Linked DNA regions of Homo sapiens: region 1 is linked to region 2. The links come from fine-mapping of genetic effects on plasma protein levels. Region 2 holds a variant in brackets. A gene starts in the other region. All regions are shown on their forward strands.

Region 1 (8,663 bases), not on the chromosome of region 2:
TTGTCTCTTTGCCAAGCCATTTTTGGACGTGAATCATTGAGCCATTCTCTAATGTTATGGTGCTCTATAAATGCATAAAGAAATCAGAAGTAGCAACTCACTACCTTCTAACCTACATGAGACCACATATCTACTTTTTAATTTCTATTTTGAAATTCTTTTCTTAAAATCCTCACTTTTGTTGTCATGATGTAGTACTATCAAACTAGAAGTCTCAAGAGATTATTCAATTAGTGCTCTTTCCTAGGCAAACAATGCATAAGCTATTTGTGTTTAGTTGTTTCTTTCTATGTGCTCTTTCATATGACAAAGAGATAAGAAAAAATGAAATGAAAACAATTTGAATCTTTTAGCCCTATTGTTAACCATCAAAATAATTAGCAAAAGGATTAACTTTAGAGATGTGCGACTATTAACAGAACAAGCCCAGACAGACTTGGTGATAAATCAAATTACAGTAAACCATGCCTAACCACCTTCTAACTTTTTCCTGATTGTTGAACACCAGGAAGAATTAGTTCTGACCTTTACTTTCCGGTTGTCTGCTGTAGTTTCATCAAATTCTTCCCCCAGCTTGAAGGAGATCTTAGTGTCCTGGAAAGAACTTTCTGTTCTTATGGTCATCATTTTCCCATCAACACTAATAGTTACTGTCGGTTTCACTAACCCTGCCATGTTCCGGGCTGCGAAATTCACTCCTACAAGACAGAGATAGCCTTGGACCTTATTAAGACATTGTTAACAATCACTCTGGAAGTCAATTTTCAAAGAATGCTTACTTTACCTATTTTGAAATTTTGGATAATGTATAGTAACTTATTTTATGTTTTCTGTGATATCAGGGCTGAGCTAGATCCTCCCAGTCATAAGGTATATATGTGACATTTTGAAAAGCTAAATTCACTCTCTGAGACTATTACACTTCCTCTAAAATGTAAATTTGTATGGTGCCTTTCAAGAGATCAAATGCTTGCACTTCACCTTGTGGAGTGTTACGATAACCTTGTGGGTGCGGGAGGAGTTTGACTTAGAGCCTGGCCCTGTGGTTTGGTTGGGAATTTCCCATTGTCAAACTTGACTCCTGCAGTTGGTGGGCAGAAGAGCTGACTCCTTCTCTGTCCTGATATCAAACTCCATTTCACATTTAGATTGTGGAACTGATATGACACATCTTACTGTAGAGAAGCAGTGTTAGACATCTGCATCACAAAGAAGAGTGAGATGGTTAAAACCCAGGCTCTAACTTGGCCACTTGCTAGCTTGGGCATATTATTTACCTCTCCTAACCTTCAGTTTTCTCAATAGTAAAGTGTGGATAACTGTATACTTGACCTCGCAAGTTTTTTTTTTGTTTGTTTGTTTGTTTGTTTTTTGTTTTGAGACAGAGTCTCGCTATGTTGCCCAGGCTGGAGTGCAGTGGCACAATCTCAGCTCACTGCAACCTCTGCCTCCCAAGTTCAAGCGATTCTCCTGCCTCAGCCCCCCGAGTAGCTGGGATTACAGGCACATGCCACCATGCCCAGCTAATTTTTGTATTTTTAGTAGAGATGGGGTTTCACCATGTTGGCCAGGCTGATCTCGAACTCCTGACCTCAGGTGATCCACCTGCCTTGGCCTCCCAAAGTGCTGGGATTGGAGGCCTGAGCCACTGTACCCAGCCAGCGGATGTTTTAAAAGGTTAAATGAAAGGGGTTAGCATGGTACTGGCACATAGAAACTGCTCAGCTGTTATTCTTGCTTGTATTATGCCTAAACCCAGCTCCCAGTCAACACAAGTGCTACTCTGGCCATAAGGCCCAAGTTTTTTATATACCCCCCCAATTTTTATTCAAAACAAGTGAGTCTATAAATCTATGAAGAGACAGAAAAACTTGTTTCTTATGACCCTCTGAGAAAGTGAATATTGACTACATCAGAGGAACAAATATTACATTTATAAGCACATTGACTTATTATGGGGATAAGGCATTGTTATTTCATTGTCTAGAATGAGTAAACATAATTAATAATTGTAAGCATCCATTAAGCATGTTATGTAAGTTAAAAAAAAGTAAAGATAAGAAAGTCCTTGGCTTTGTATACAGTTTACTACAAGGGAGGTTTCTCTTAATTAAATATGAAAAATATGAAATAATTGCTGTTCTTCCATTAGTAAAGAACAGTTTAGCTATTATACACCCAAGTCATTATAATTAATGTGTAACTAAATGACTTGAGTTAGAGATTAAAGGATTGGTAGGGTTTATAATTCTGAGGAATATCCAGTGGTGAGACATTCAATGAGTAAAAATGTTGTGTTTCTTCAGATTTGTAATTCTTCAAAACCATGTTTATAAAATATCTCTCACATTTATGAGAACTCTAAAAATTAACCAACTAGAAATTTTGTTAGTTGATACTGCTGTTTTAAAGCTATAACTTAAACCTTGAAACAAATTTAATTGATCAATTTAATTGTAGGTAGTGATTACTGTCTATAAATTTGAAGCTGGGAAAAATGTTATTAAATGAAATGACCAAGCTAAAATGAAATTCTATCTAGAAGTTAGGTGAAGTATTTTCAAAAAGGATAAATGGGCTTAAATATATGGATCATGACTGGACAGAGGTGTCTGTGGGCCTAGTCTTCCAAAAAGAGACAATTATTACTAGTAATTTAAAAAAGCAAAAGTAGAAGCATACATTGTGTTAGTCTATATACCCTAGGATCACAAAAGGAAGATAATTGTAGGAAAATTCATGGTAAAGTACAAACCCAATCACATCACAAAATGCTTTGCCAATTTCCAAATTTGTAATGGTATTTCTCACCCAGTTCTTTCATGTAATCCTCAAAGTTTTCACTGGAGACCAGCTTCCAGGTTCCCAAGAAGGGCTCAACCATCATGGAACACTTGCTGAGAAGAGCCACTCGTAATTGAAAACCAAAGAAATATAGGCATTACGGTGCTGCCAGTAGTTTAATTTAAAGAGCGTCTTCATCACGTGACTCTTCTGAAATGGCCAATGGGCAACAGCAGCAAGACTAAAGATTCTAGGCACCAGCATTTGACTCATTTTATTTACCTCCAAATTAAGAGACAGAAAATTAGCATGTAAAATTAAATTCTGGTCAATGATTTTAGCTTCTAGCAAAAAGATTTACACCCAAGTCACCTGACAAATATTACTTGTGGAACGGAGACAATCTTCAATAGACATCAGCTTTTTGAACAATGAATACTGAGTCAACCCTGGAGGAATATCCTGACAAATTGATAAACACCTGGCTGAGATGTTTTCCTACCTAAGACAAGAAATCCTTGCTTGGTCCACCTCAGCTGTTTTTTGTTTGGGTAAGTCACAGTGCTCAAACATCCTCTTCATTAAAATAATATCTTCCCTTCCCTTCCTTACAGGGTTGATGGGTTGATATTAGTTAATGTAACTAAAATGCCTATAATTGCTTGGAGGGAAATGGAGGGTATTATTAATATATTATCATTGTTGTTAATCGAAGGTAATTGAGGACAGGAAAGAAAGGTGACAATTATCATTGGATAATAGTATATGATTTAAGCTCTGAAAAGGAAGCAGAGCGAATGCCTACAAAATTCGTCTTTCAGGCTTACAAAGTAAACTCTACATTAAAAGATATTTTAAATTATAAGAAAAAATTTTGGCAAGTTTCATATAGAAAAAGATGTTTGGAATCTGCATTCTAAAAGAAAGACAAAGGCAGCAAATGGTTTCAATCTCTGTGCCATTACTTCTGAAACCATCTTCTGCAACCCCAATAATGGAAGTGGACTTTGCAGGTACTGAGTTTAGTAAGAAGGAGTAGATTCAGTAGCTGTTGATTTACATTACGGTTTTGAACTCCAGTTAACTTTAGAAGATGTTGGAAAGTTAGTGTCAGGGACCAGAAGAAGAATATTTATATTTTTACCTGCTTTGTATGAAGTATTTATTTAATTCAGAAAATATTGTTTGTGAACAAAATAAACAGGAGGTTGATATTTTGGTACTGTAAAACAATAACTTAAGTGGAATAAAGGATGGCTTTTGATGAAAACATATAAAGAAGAAACATATAATGTGATATCTTTATGGGTGGGACAATTATTAAATTATCTACAGTGCAAAACAGGGTAAGTGAAAATCCTGGAGTTAATTTCAGGAAACTAAGACCCAAGCTCAAAATAAGTGCCTCAGCAGTTGAAAGTGCATTCAGAGGTGATGTTCAAATATAGAGCAAGTTGTTAAACGTTTGCTTAACTGGTTCGAGATGTGTATGCACTCTCTGCTTTAAAGAAAGCAAGCATACATTGCTATGCCTGTTGGCCAGCTGGGTAGTGTAGCAAAGGTCTCCCATCAGCATAATCTTCCTTGTTGTTTTGATTCTCCTGTCATAGAATGATATTCCTGTGGTCCGTTTAGAACTCAGTTGGCCCATGAGACAAAAGCTAACATCAGATTTCTGGTTTCAATTATCCTCAGCAAACTAACGCAGGAAGAGAAAAACACCTCATGTTCTCACTTATAAGTGGGAGCTGAACAGTAAGAACACATGGACACAAGGAGGAGAACAATGCACACTGGAGCCTGTTGGGGCCAGGGCTATGGGGGGAGGGAGAGCATCAGGATAAATAGCTAATGCATGTGGGGCTTAATACCTACGTGATGGGTTGATAGGTGCAGCAAACCACCATGGCACACATTTACTTATATAACAAACCTGTACGTTCTGCACATGTATCCCAGAACTTAAAATAAAATAAAATAAAAATTCTGGCTTCTGTAAAATTCCCCACCCCTAGGAGAGAACCAAAGGGAGAGACAGTCTCTCTTTTGCCTCTACACATTTTTCTATCTCACGTGATATTTACAAGTGCTGCATCCATTGTGTTACCTCCTCAAAGATGGGGCCAGAACTGAGGATAGCAGAGCAGAAACGTGGAAGGAACTGAAGGCCACTTTATTTCAAAAATTTATATTATGTTAGTTAATAAATTCCATTCTTATTTAAACAGTTTTGTCTCTGAGCTTTTGTTACTTGTAGAAGAAGTCTTCATAATTACTACGCCTTTGTAAATAGCTTCACCAAATGGTGAATTTGGACCTTCACAACAACCAGTTGCATGAATCACATAGAGCTGGCCTCATGACAGCAGAGACCCATCTTCCTGAACCAACTCAAACATCTCTTTCCCTGTGACACTGGTTCAGAGCTAGATAATCCCCATGGCGTGAAGATAGAAATAAATGTTTAAGAGAAGTATATTAGCTTATTTCATAGTACTGCAAAGAGCTATTTCCCAGCTGTCTCCTGAGCTATTCTATGAGTATATCAAAAAAAGAAAATATTTTCCACTCACTTCTGTATCCTTAAGACAGTATCTGGCATATCATAAGTGTTCAATAAATGTTTTATGGATGAGTGACCAAAGAAATAAGTAGTATTTTTTTTAACTGGTAATTCTCATTAGTGTTCTTTATCTCTCTAACAGTGACTAAAGACAGAGTTTTAGTACATTATCTTCTCCTGACCTGGTCCTATGACAGGCCTTTTATTCTGGTCATTATCAGATGGTGGAGGGATGCTCAGACTCTCTTCATCTTTCTCAGTTATATAGCACAAGTCTCCCTTCTCAACTAAGAAAGTTCTCTGCTATTTCTGTTGCTACCACCGCTAGCCTTTGGCACTTTGGTTTGATTATATAAAAAAAGTGAACACCATTTCCTCAAGTAGAAAAAAAATTTTTAATCAGATTGTTCCTAATGTTAATCCTAGTAAAGGAACTAGAATACTGTAGTTTGTTATAGAATAGTTACATGTCTTGTTCTTATGACAGTTTCAAGGCTCATTTCTCCAATATGTCATTTTTCTATGAACTTTCAGCATCTCATTTTCTATATTGATTTTCTTGTGACATTTTAAGACATCAAGTAGTTTTGAATAATTTTTAATTTTGAGATGCTATGGTTGCCACTGATGATGGATACTGGTAAAGTTAAACATATACTGGAAGCTACACAAGTATTCAGAAATATGTCTGATAATTTATTGTTGCACATATAGTACTTTAGCTGGATTTGATAAAGCATCTAAGATTCTTATTTCCACATGCAGTGACACCTCTAAGTATCATATTCCTTACTGTGTTCATCATTCAATTTCAATTTTAAAGATGCAATAATATAATGACTTTTCAAAGTGTACATTTAATCTAGGACTCTGAAAAGTAATTATTTAAAATTTTTCTTTTTAAGACGATATTATATTATCCAATAAGGAAAACAAGTATTTTGAAATTAACTTTGGTTAATAGTCTGAATGTGATATTTGTCATTGAAATAGTCTTCCATTTGCTAGTATTTTCTACACTAGAGGAATTGATGTTATAATTTCAAGAGACTATTTGCTTAACATAAAAGATATATTTTTTTAAAACATCACTTTTTCCAATAATTTTTTTATATATGGGGCTTATAAGAGAATTTTTACATTGTTTTTACTTCTGGATCACTTCACTTATAATAAAAATTTTACTTAAAACAACCATACCAAATTAACTCTGAGCAAGTAATTGTTTTAATATGACAACTTCCAGTTTATTTTTACTAGTTACAAAATAAGTCCATCTCTTATCTATTATTTACTGCTTAATAGGTATATATAAAAATAGCAATTTCTTTCTTTTGTTTTTGGTGAAGGTTATTTATTTGAAGTGCTCACTATTTAAGAGCATATGGAGGCGGCTGACCACCTTGAAAATTCACCTGTAGTAGGACTGTTCCTTTTTTTTTTTATTTTTAATTTTACGTTAAGTTCTGGGATACATGTGCAGAATGTGCAGGTTTGTTACATATGTATACATGTACCATGGTGGTTTGCTGCACCTATCAACTGTCATCTAGGTTTTAAGCCCTGAATGCATTAGGTATTTGTCCTGATGCTCTCCCTCCCGTTGGCCCCCACCCCCTGACAGGCCTCAGTGTGTGATGTTCCCCTCCCTGTGTCCATGTGTTCTCATTGTTCAACTCCCACTTATGAGTGAGAACACGTGGTGTTAGGTTTTCTGTTCCTGTGTTAGTTTGCTGAGAATGATGGCTTCCAGCTTCATCCATGTCCTTGCAAAGGACATGAACTCATTCTTTTTTAAGGCTGCATAGTATTCCATGGTGTATATGTGCCACATTTTCTTTATCCAGTCTATGATTGATGGGCATTTGGGTTAGTCCAAGTCTTCGCTAAAAAATAGCAATTTCTTTCTAAGGAGTTATGCATATCATATTTATTAACATGTAAAGAATTTTTAGGCAAATTCATTTTTTGGCAATTGATATTTTCTCTTGTTTCATGCCACCTTCTTCCCCTAACTTTATTCTATTTGGTTGAGGTTTTTTTTGGTTACCTTTTAAATTTGAAATAATTACAAAAACACTTCCCGAACAACACAGAAAACTCCCATATATACTCTTTGCCCAGATTTCACAATTGTCAACATTCCAACACTTTTGTCCCTACCTCTCTCTATCTCTCTCCCTCCCTCCCTCCCTCTCTCTCTTCATAAGAAGCAAGCTGTTTGTTGCTCAGTCATTGAGAGTAAGTTGAGAAATGTTGCCCCACTCCTCTCCAAACAAGGATCTCAATCAGGAAATCAACACTGATGGCAATACTGCTATCTAATCCACAGACCCCACTCAAACCTTACCAATTGTCCTGACAGTTTTTCCTTTTCCTACTAAAAAAAAGGGAAAAAACCCAGCCTTTCTGACCCAGAATCCTGTCCGTGATCATGCGTTGCTTTCAGCCATCATGTCTCTTTAGTCTCCTTCAATCAGGAACAGATCTTTAGTCATTCCTCATCTTTTAGTACTGGAGACACTGGGGAAAAAAATCACTGTTCTAAGCAAGAGGCTGGGTCATCTGCTGAAAACTGACAAGTAATTTTTACATGAAAACTGAGGTCAGTAATGCTTCAGACTTTGAAAGGAGTATATCTAAATCAGAAATTGTAGCCCTTTGATGGCTAGAGTGGGAATTAGGGAAGAGGGGATAGCCAGCTCATTACTTAACCTGATCCTGTGTTTCTAAAGAGGGAGTGACTGGCTTTTTGGACTATTCATATCTGCTTCAAGATATAGGTGGACTCTATGACCACACTGTGGGTTTTGGAGAGGTACTCACTTAATCCTGCCTCTCTTCCTTTCAGAGTACAGTGTCCTCTATGCCTTTATGTATGTATTGATAGAAACAATGTCAAAAAGTGGAAAATTATATGAGCTTCACAGAGATCCCAGGCAAGATAAATGGGATAAATTGGGGAGCTGTTACTTGAAGATCTTTCTTGGATGTATCTATGGACTTAGTTTTATGGTGAAAATATAGGAACGTGAATTTGACTTATCTATCAAATTTATATTGAACTGGATCTTCTTATTCTATGATTCCACACCAATTGAAAAATAATAATTAGACTTGAAGACTACATTTTCAAAAATGACTAAATTCACAAATATACCTACATAAACGGACTTTGTAAAGGATTAGCACAGAGGCAACATTAGGGATGAGGAAGGCTTGAGAAGAAGGGAGTGGGAAAAAATGAATTCTGCCCAGGAAGAAGCAGAATGTAAAGTACAAAACAAACAGAAACCTTGAGGCAAGAAAGAAGATG
Region 2 (8,710 bases):
GCCACCATACCTAGCTTCCTGGATAATTTAAATTTTTTTTTTATTTTTAGTAGAGACAAGGTCTTACTGTATTACCCAGGCTGGTCTCAAACTCCTTGGCTCAAGTGATCTTCCAGCTTTGGCCCCCCGAAGTTCTGGAGTTATAGGCATGAGCCACCACACCCAGCCTGTAATCCTCTGTGGCTAAGTAGACACAATGTGATGAGGATATGTATATCATAGAAATTGATCTTTGATATTCTTCTAAAAGTCTTTCTTTGTTCAAAACACAGAAAGGATGACTTGTTGTGCTTCATTGATTTATTCAACAAATTGCCTTATTTTTATTGCTACTATTCTGGACAAGGGATGCAAAAATGAAGAAGATAAGGTCTTTACCTTTTAGGTGCTTTCAGGTTGGTGGGAAGATAAAGAAGTAAACCAGAATTTACAATAGAGCATGAGAAGAGCTGTGACAGAGGAGTGCCTAGGGTACTGGGATAAAGCAGTAGACACCTAACTCTGGTGCAGGGAGATGTCATTTATGGGCCCAGCCAGCAGCAGGGGAGAGTGGTTGTGACAGCATCAGACTAAGGCTAGCCACTAGGAAGACCTTCTCAGTTAGATTGTGATTTCTCAATCTATGCATTCATGCACAGAATGGTCACACGCTAAGTACTATGTGCCAGTCACTACGCTAGCTCTTATTTAGAGTGGTGGACAGAGAATACAATATGCTAAAGGCTGGGGTAGAAGCTGACACTATCTCAATTAAAGCCAGTTGAAATGTTATGCTGCTCAGAATGTGGAAGAGGAAAAAGGAGGATAATTTCAATGACTTACCCTCTTACTCCTTTCAAGTCTGTGAATAGGTTGATACAAATTCCGCTGCGCAGTTTATTTATCATCTGGAATCCCAGCAGTTGAAGGATCCGGAATATATCAAACTTCCTAGGTCTCTGTTTGGACACCCTTCCTAGTTCAGGAAGCAATTAGTCTGAGAGAGACAGAAGTGAGAGTGTAGGAGCAGAATATATATCCTTTTAAAATAATTTAGTAACAACTCTAGGTAAGTGACCAATAATTTATAGAGTCTATTCTTTTTATAGAGATATTTCCTTGCTGCTCAACCAGCGAGCTTGCTGGGTTTAGAGGATTAATCTTTGACGTAGTAAATATGCTCAAGTTGTAATTCAGTCTCAGGGATAAAGGGAACTTAGACTTGTCTTGTATAAGGGAAAAAATATTAAATGGATTTGTTGAGGACCCGCCGTGGTAGTCCTTATTGTCTCTTGTACCTCAGCATTGCAGCTTTGGAACTGCAAGGGACCTTATTAATCTTCTCATACAATGTCCTTATTTTACAGATGAGGAGACTGAGATTTATGGTACATGAGGTGGTGGCAGATCCAGGGCTGAAACCCGTGTCTCTTGACTCACACTTTTGAAACTGCACTGTGCTACTGCGCATCACAAACTCTAGCCTCACTTGCAAGGCTCCCCTTAACCGCCTTCCCCTCGGTTCTTTTCTGTCCCTTCCTGTTGTCTATTTTCGGCAAACTGAGCTCCTCCCTGGCCTCCTGTCCATGCCACACGTTTTCTGCCTCTGAAACCTCCTGTAAGCACTCCCCCTCCTCAGGCTGGATTGCCTTTACTTTTCTCTCCCTTCTGCTCCTTGCTTCCTCTCCAACCCAATTCCACACTCCCTCTTGCAGGAAACCTTCCCAAAATAACCCCTTCTTACTTGGAATATTTCTTGACTCTGCATCTTTTCAGCCCCATTGTTGGTTTATACTTGCTGCTGCTTTATTGCTTAATAAGCATTTTGAAGTCTTTTTTTTTTTTTTTTGAGACAGAGTTTCACTCTTGTTGCCCAGGCTGGAGTGCAATGGTGCAATCTCGGCTCACCGCAACCTCCTCCTCCCAGGTTCAAGCAATTCTCCTGCCTCAGTCTCCTGAGTAGCTGGGATTACAGGCATGCACCACCATGCCCGGCTAATTTTGTATTTTTAGTAGAGACGAGGTTTCTCCATGTTGTTCAGGCTGGTCTAGAATTCCCCACCTCAGGTGATCCGCCTGTCTTGGCCGCTGAAAGTGCTGGGATTACAGGTGTGAGCCACTGTGCCCGGCCTCTGAAGTCATTTTTTAGATATTTGTGTTCTGTCAATTTACTTAGATGAGGAACTTCTTAAGGGGAAGGCCCCTCAGAACACACACGGGGAGCTTATACTGCTGCCTGACTAGAGCTAGACCTGGGATAGTCTGAGAAAGTTCAAATGACCTCTGCATTTCAGGAAAGAAAAGAAGACTGTCAACTTAGGGGTAGTGGGAATGCTGATCCCATTTAGAGGCAGTTGGCACCTATTTGAAATTCCTTCTTATGGTTATTTCCAGTCCTGGGATTCTGTAACCCTATGAACCAACTTGGTTATGCCCTTGCCTGATCTTGATGCTATTACCAATTTTGTGGCCTGTATTAAATAATAAGACATCCCATAACTAGTAGGTGGCAGATTGGTGTGTCCACTGCAGGTTATAAAATAAAAAACTAGCTTGGTGGAGGGACCTTCCTATGTGTAATGCATTGTTAGGTAGAGCACCTGGCTGCCCAATGGATAACCTCAGTTGCTGCCTGGAGGCCTCTACCTCGGGGAAGGGAGGCCTTGAGAGCCATTTTGACCCAAGTTCAAATTCTCTAGAACAAACAAGCCGATCTCTTGCTCCAAGCTCCAGTCAAAGAGGCTCCAGTGTGTTTATTGACTCTTGCATGACCCTGCCCTGGAGAACAAACAAACAGCTCAACCTGACTCATTCCCTCCACCAACTATACTCAGGTCCATTGCTGGGGTTTGCCAGAAAAATCCCTCAGGCCCTGTGGAAAATTAGAGAGCCAAAGGTTAGGGCTCTCTGGTCATATATTCCTACTCTTTCTTCCCATAGAACGTTAACCCTCCCTGGAGGTGCAGAAGACTAGCAGTGACTTCCAATTCATTTGACTTGGGCCCTCTCCATTGCTTGAGGCAAATCAGCTTGCTTCACTGATTCATTCATTTGACAAATATTTATTGAACACCTGCTATATGTGAGGCTCTCCTCTCTTAGGATGGGAGCTTACTGATTTTTGCTATGGAGAATGCTGATGCTTCCATCTTTATTTATTTATTTACTTATTTATTTATTTATTTATTTGAGACAGAGTCTCGCTCTGTCAACCAGGCTGGAGTGCAATGGTGCGATCTCGGCTCACTGTAACCTCCACCTCCTGGGTTCCAGTGATTCTCCTGCCTCAGCCTCCCAAATAGGTGGGACTACAGGTGTGCGCCACCATGCCTGGTTAATTTTTGTTTTTAGTAGAGACGGGGTTTTGCCATGTTGGCCAGGCTGGTCTTGAACTCCTGACCTCAGGTGATTGCCCCCCTTGGCCTCCCAAAGTGCTGGGAATACAGGTGTGAGCCATTGCGCCCAGCCCAATGCTTCCATCTTTTAACTAAAAGGTTTGAAGTACCCTTTTCCAGACATCTTGTAAGAATAACAATACATTTTCTCTCCCTTACCACCATTGGAAGAACTTAGTTCTGAACCCAAACCATCTCCTTTCATTAAGCCTTTGGTGGATCATTTTTACTCTTGGGATTTCATCAAGCCCTGCTCCCCATTTTCCCTCACAGAAGAGGAGGCAGCCTCTTGCGCGTGTATGTGTGCTCAGCTTATTCCTTCTCAATGATTTTTAAAAAGAAGGAACCCAACTCAGCCCCTCCTCCTTGTTGTGTTTAAGGGAGTGCTGTTTCCTAAACTGTGTAATCCTCAAAGCACTGAGGTTTCACCTAATGTTAATAAGGGTTTCTTGAAAAAGCATTGAATCAGGTCATTTTAGGAGACAGTGAATGAGACAAAATTAAAATCTTAAGCAGCAGGGCTTCTCAGAACCTTTAACATATTAATATTCATTTGAAATCTCAAGAGGGAGACATCATTTGCAATATTTTCCAAATTATTAGACCATGGAAGCCACTTTTAAAGGAAAACCTCTTATTCGTTCTTGGGACATTAGCATTCCATTAAATTCAGTTTGAGAAATGCTGATGTAGTAGCAGGAATATTGAATTAAGAGACAGGAACCTGAACTTGCATCCCTCTTTGACACTCAGTTTTGTGACTCTGGAAAAATCACTTCTCCTCTATGGACCTCCATTTCTTTACCTGGAAAATGAGAAGGCTGAATTAAATTATCCTTCAGTCCTCTTCTAGTTCTGTACAAAGGCATCCACAGGTAGGCCCAATCTCCTAAGAACCAGAAACAAAATCTTAGGTGGATATCTTGACATACCAGTAAAGGATATACAAATAATACAATAAAGCTTTAAACCAATCTGTGACTAAAGAGAGCTGGAGTAAATGCATTTTACAAGAAAGGAAAGATATTTGTGGAAAGAAAATATGGTTGTTCCATATGCAGCTGAATGTCTTAAGGGAAAGATCTGAGAAGGCTGCTTGGAAGAGGAGCATTGGTATCAAGAGAAGAGAGCATACTCTCTGCTGACAGGAGTGGGTGTGGAGAGGTGGGGTATCCCTGGTTTATGGGGCAAACTACTTGGTTGATAATTCAAAGAGAGTTGAAGAAAGTTCATCTGGGAATTGTGATGGAATAACCCAGATCCTGGGAGTCAATAAAGGTAAAGGAGCTTGACCTGGAGCACCTAGGAAGGTGGGTCAGTGCATATTTCATTCCCAGTCATCTGTGGTGAGGTCAAGGCTCCAGGGTGCTTACAAAAGACATGTGCATATGTGGATGGCCTTGGAGACAGACAGGTTCCCTAGTGGGTGGCCCAAACCTCTTGCCTCTTCTTGCATTGTGTGTGATGGGCTAGAGCTCTAGATTAAATCCATGCCTATGAGCACTGTCACTAAGAGAAGATAAGAACTATGAGCAGAGATGCTTATCTTTATAGCTATTCTGGTTTGATTTATATATATATATATTGTGTGTGTGTATGTGTGTGTGTGTGTGTGTGTGTGTTGGGTCTATATGCACCTATGTGTATGAATGTGTTTTTATGTAAGTGTG[C/T]GCTTGGACATGTATGTGAAAATGTGACCATGTTTTATATGTATATATGGGTCTGCAAAGTGCTTATATGTCTACCTAGGCTGTGTCTGTGGTAAAAAAAAAGTGAGGTTTAATTTTATGTATGTGTGTAAAATGGTGTGTACACTACATGTGCATATGGATAGTGGTCTAGTTTATATATTTGAGGCATGTATTAATATTATATTCACATTCATATTTATGTGCGAATGTTTATATGTATTTATATGTCTGTATCTTAGGTTGCATCTTTTTGAACTACTTATTTTTATATTTCTTTGTATTTAGGGGTGGGATTGTTTCCTGAATTCAAAAAGTGTTTATTGAGAGCCTACTATGTGCAGGGTATATTCCTATGTATGTATGTGGGGTGTGCCTAAGTCTATAAATATGCTTGGAAGGTACACATGCCCTTATGTATATGCCATCAAGTTCATTAAATGCTTAAGTGTATACTGATATCCTCACCTATCTAATTTTTTTTTTTTTTTTTGAGATGGAGTCTTGCACTGTCGCCTGGGCTAGAGTGCAATGGCACGATCTTGGCTCACTGCAACCTCCGCCTCCCAGGTTCAAGAGATTCTCCTGCCTCAGCCTCCCAAGTAGCTGGGATTACAGGCACCTGCCACCACACTCGGCTAAGTTTTTGTATTTTCAGTAGAAACGGGGCTTCACTGTGTTGGCCAGGCTGTTTTCAAACTCCTGACCTCATGATCCACCCGCCTTGGCCTCCCAAAGTGCTGGGATTATAGGCGTGAGCAACCGCGCCTGGCTACCTATCTAATTTTTAAATCCTCTATTAAATGTCATCACTGTAATCTCTTCCTAATTATTTTTTGGAAGAAGCAGGAGATAACTAAAAAGATTGAGTATGAGCATGTGTATGCATCTAATGCAGGTATGTCTGTGTGACGTAAGATTGTGCCCTCTTTATTTTTTCATTTATTTTCATTTTCGACCTCCTGCTAGATCTTTGTGCCATCTCACTCTAAGCACTTCTTGCTCCCTTACAGCTTGGAAAAATACCTAAGACACTCATTCACCACTATGAATGAATGCCTTGTTTTCTCTTCCTGGTGTGTCCAACCCAGGAAGAAAGGATGAGAGACAGTTAACAACTGATATTAAGCTCTAGCTGTCTAAGAAAATTTTTCTTTTTGCCTCTCCCTGGCCCTATCTTGTCTATCCTTCAACCAGTTCTCCTAATCCCTCGAAAGAGAGACACAGGTTTTCTTTTCCCCAGAGAAACCAGAGGGAGAGGAAGAGAGATTTTACTCCAAGGGAATCTGCTCCCATTTTATGGGGTTTGTCAATAATGTTCCTTCATTAAGATAGCATCTCAGAATGAAAGAGGCCTCTGCTCTTCGTGAAAAGAGTTGTTTTTTCTTAAGGGGGGAGTGTAGGGGGCATTAAATAAACCTGTTTGTTAAAAAAGTACCTTTGCAGCAGGAAATGTGTTATTATTGTAATTGTCTGATGCTAATTATACTTATTACTATAATAACCATTTTGTTGTAACAAATGATGTAATCCTCTTCATTTCTGTCACTGCCAGAGGCAGAAGTGAGTGGAGTGTCTATAGCAAGAGGGGGTACTGGGGGGTGTTCTTGGTGGGGAGGTGCAGTCAGGCCTAGTGAAGGTGGGGAGCATGTGCTGGTGGCTGGCTTTGCTGCTGAGGAGGTGGGAGATGCAGGGCAGAAGATACCTAGACTGTTTCACTCCCCAAGCCTGCTTTTCTCTGGAACTCCGTTCTAGGGCCTTTCCTGAAAGCATTTACTCATTCAGTCAGACCTCCGTTTATTAACTCAACAAGCACTCATTTAGTACCTGCTGTGTTCCATATGTTAGAGTCAGCCCTAGTGATATAGAGTAAACCAGATAGGATTTTTACTGCTGAGATGTTCACAGTCTAGTGGTGGAAAGTGTTTGTAAGCTTGCAAACATTATTTTCAGTGCACTAGAATAAGTGTGGTATAGAGTATTTAGAGTGCTATGAGTATATGCATAGAAGAGGTGACTTATTCTGGGTACAGAAGCCTGAAAAGCTGGATCTTTTGGAGGAACACTAGGAGTTTGCAGCACAGAGAAGGGAGTTAGCATGTCCAGGGAGAAGGAACTATATTACTAAAGGTATGGAGGCATGATAAAGGCTATTTGTTTTTGTTAATATTAATAATAATTAAAAAATGATAAAAATAGCTCATATTCATATCATACACTGTTCTAGGAACTTGCATGTGTTGATTCACTTAATCTTCACAACAATGCTATGTAGTTGCTCTGTAGTGAAAATTAAGTGATCAATAGATGCAAAGTGCTTAGAACAGTGCCTGATATGAATAAGCTATTTTTATTATTGTTTTGTTATTACTATTTAACATATGCAAAAACAGAGACTTAGGTTGAGTAACTTGCCCTGTTTCACATATACAGTAAGCAACAGAGCTTAGGTTTGAATCCCAGTTCTGAGTAGAGCTCCAGTTTTCAGCCACTCTTGTAGTTAGGATATGGAGTGCATGCTAGGGAGGGGTGGTAATTTGTAATGAGACTGCCAAATAGTTTGGGGCTAGAGTGTAAATGGCCTTGTATACCATTAGAGGTTTTTAAACAGAGGAGTAACAAGATAGGACCTGCATTTTAGAAAGGCAATTCCCCAAAACTAGGACTGTGTGGACAACAGGCCCACTGGATCTTCCCATCTCAAAGTGAAGCTGAGGGTTCAGCTTCTAAAATAGCCAGCTCTTGGTCATCGCATTCAGCTCCACAGTTGATCCAGCCAACTGAGCTGCAGAGCTGCTCTAGCTGGCTGCCTATGAGAAGTGGAAGGAAAGAGAATTGGAGCAACTATCAGGTTAATAAACTCTGTGGAGAGAGCCAAACCAAATTTCCAAGGCCCCACGATTAGTTTGTCTAAATGAAGCACAACAACATAATGCTGATAGGCCTGACTTCCTTTAGTGTTAATGGACCTTACAGATCTTCTCTAACTTCTGGGCTGTGGCCTTGTCTGTCTTGTTTACCACAATATCTCTAGTACCAGCAGAGGGCCTGCCAATGGTACATGTTGATAAATCTATGATATGAATGACCAGTCACTTGTCCTGGAGCTCTGGGTACCCCAAGCTTGGCTGAATGCTCCCACAATTGAGTCATTATTAATTAAAGAAGTAGGCCAGGCACGGTGGCCCACACCTGTAATCCCAGCACGTTGGGAGGCCGAGGTGGGTGGATCACGAGGTCAAGAGATCGAGACCATCCTGGCCAACATGGTGAAACCCCATCTCTACTAAAAATACAAAAATTAGCTGGGCATGGTGGCATGTGCCTGTAGTCCCAGGTACCTGGGAGGCTGAGGCAGAAGAATTGCTTGAACCCGGGAGGCAGAGGTTGCAGTGAGCTGAGATTGCGCCACTGCACTCCAGCTTGGTGATAGAGCGAGACTCCGTCTCAAAAAAAAAAAAAAATTCCTCCTGTTGTCAGTGCCCTTCTCTCCATTCCACCACACACACACAAACATATATTCTCCCCACTTATCACTTCGAGGTCTGTCTTTTCACCATAAAGGAGTGCATCAAAGATAATATTAATAATGGCTAGTAGTCACTGAATGCCTACCAGTGCCAGGCATTGTTCTAAGCCTTTCATGTG

Direction of the effects. Positions count from the first base shown, and alleles are read on the strand shown. Strength reflects both the effect of a copy and how common the allele is.
For the plasma level of the protein whose gene starts at base 2,940 in region 1, T is the high allele of the variant in region 2 and C is the other (weak association).

What was found. PIP is the posterior inclusion probability: the model's chance that the variant is causal. Protein levels are from antibody-based Olink assays in UK Biobank. Linkage for the fine-mapping came from a reference panel and not from the study's own genotypes, which makes the PIPs less certain.
Region 1: FABP9 starts here. The variant in region 2 is fine-mapped to the plasma level of the FABP9 protein (UK Biobank, PIP 0.97).

The regions. Positions count from the first base shown.
Region 1 is chr8:81,458,640-81,467,302 of GRCh38, forward strand. It overlaps FABP9 (fatty acid binding protein 9), which reads right to left and starts at 2,940. Exons shown (of 4, transcript NM_001080526.2): 1 at 2,812-2,940; 2 at 526-698; 3 at 1-64. The coding sequence starts at 2,884. LOC101927118 (a long non-coding RNA gene) reads left to right here and starts at 2,819. Exons shown (of 9, transcript XR_001745980.2): 1 at 2,819-3,335.
Region 2 is chr12:53,822,734-53,831,443 of GRCh38, forward strand. The region is part of intron 1 of LOC105378250 (a long non-coding RNA gene); the gene reads left to right. Among named protein-coding and RNA genes, the nearest start is that of CISTR, 75 kb to the left of the region's middle. The variant C/T (reference allele first, on the strand shown) is at 5,045.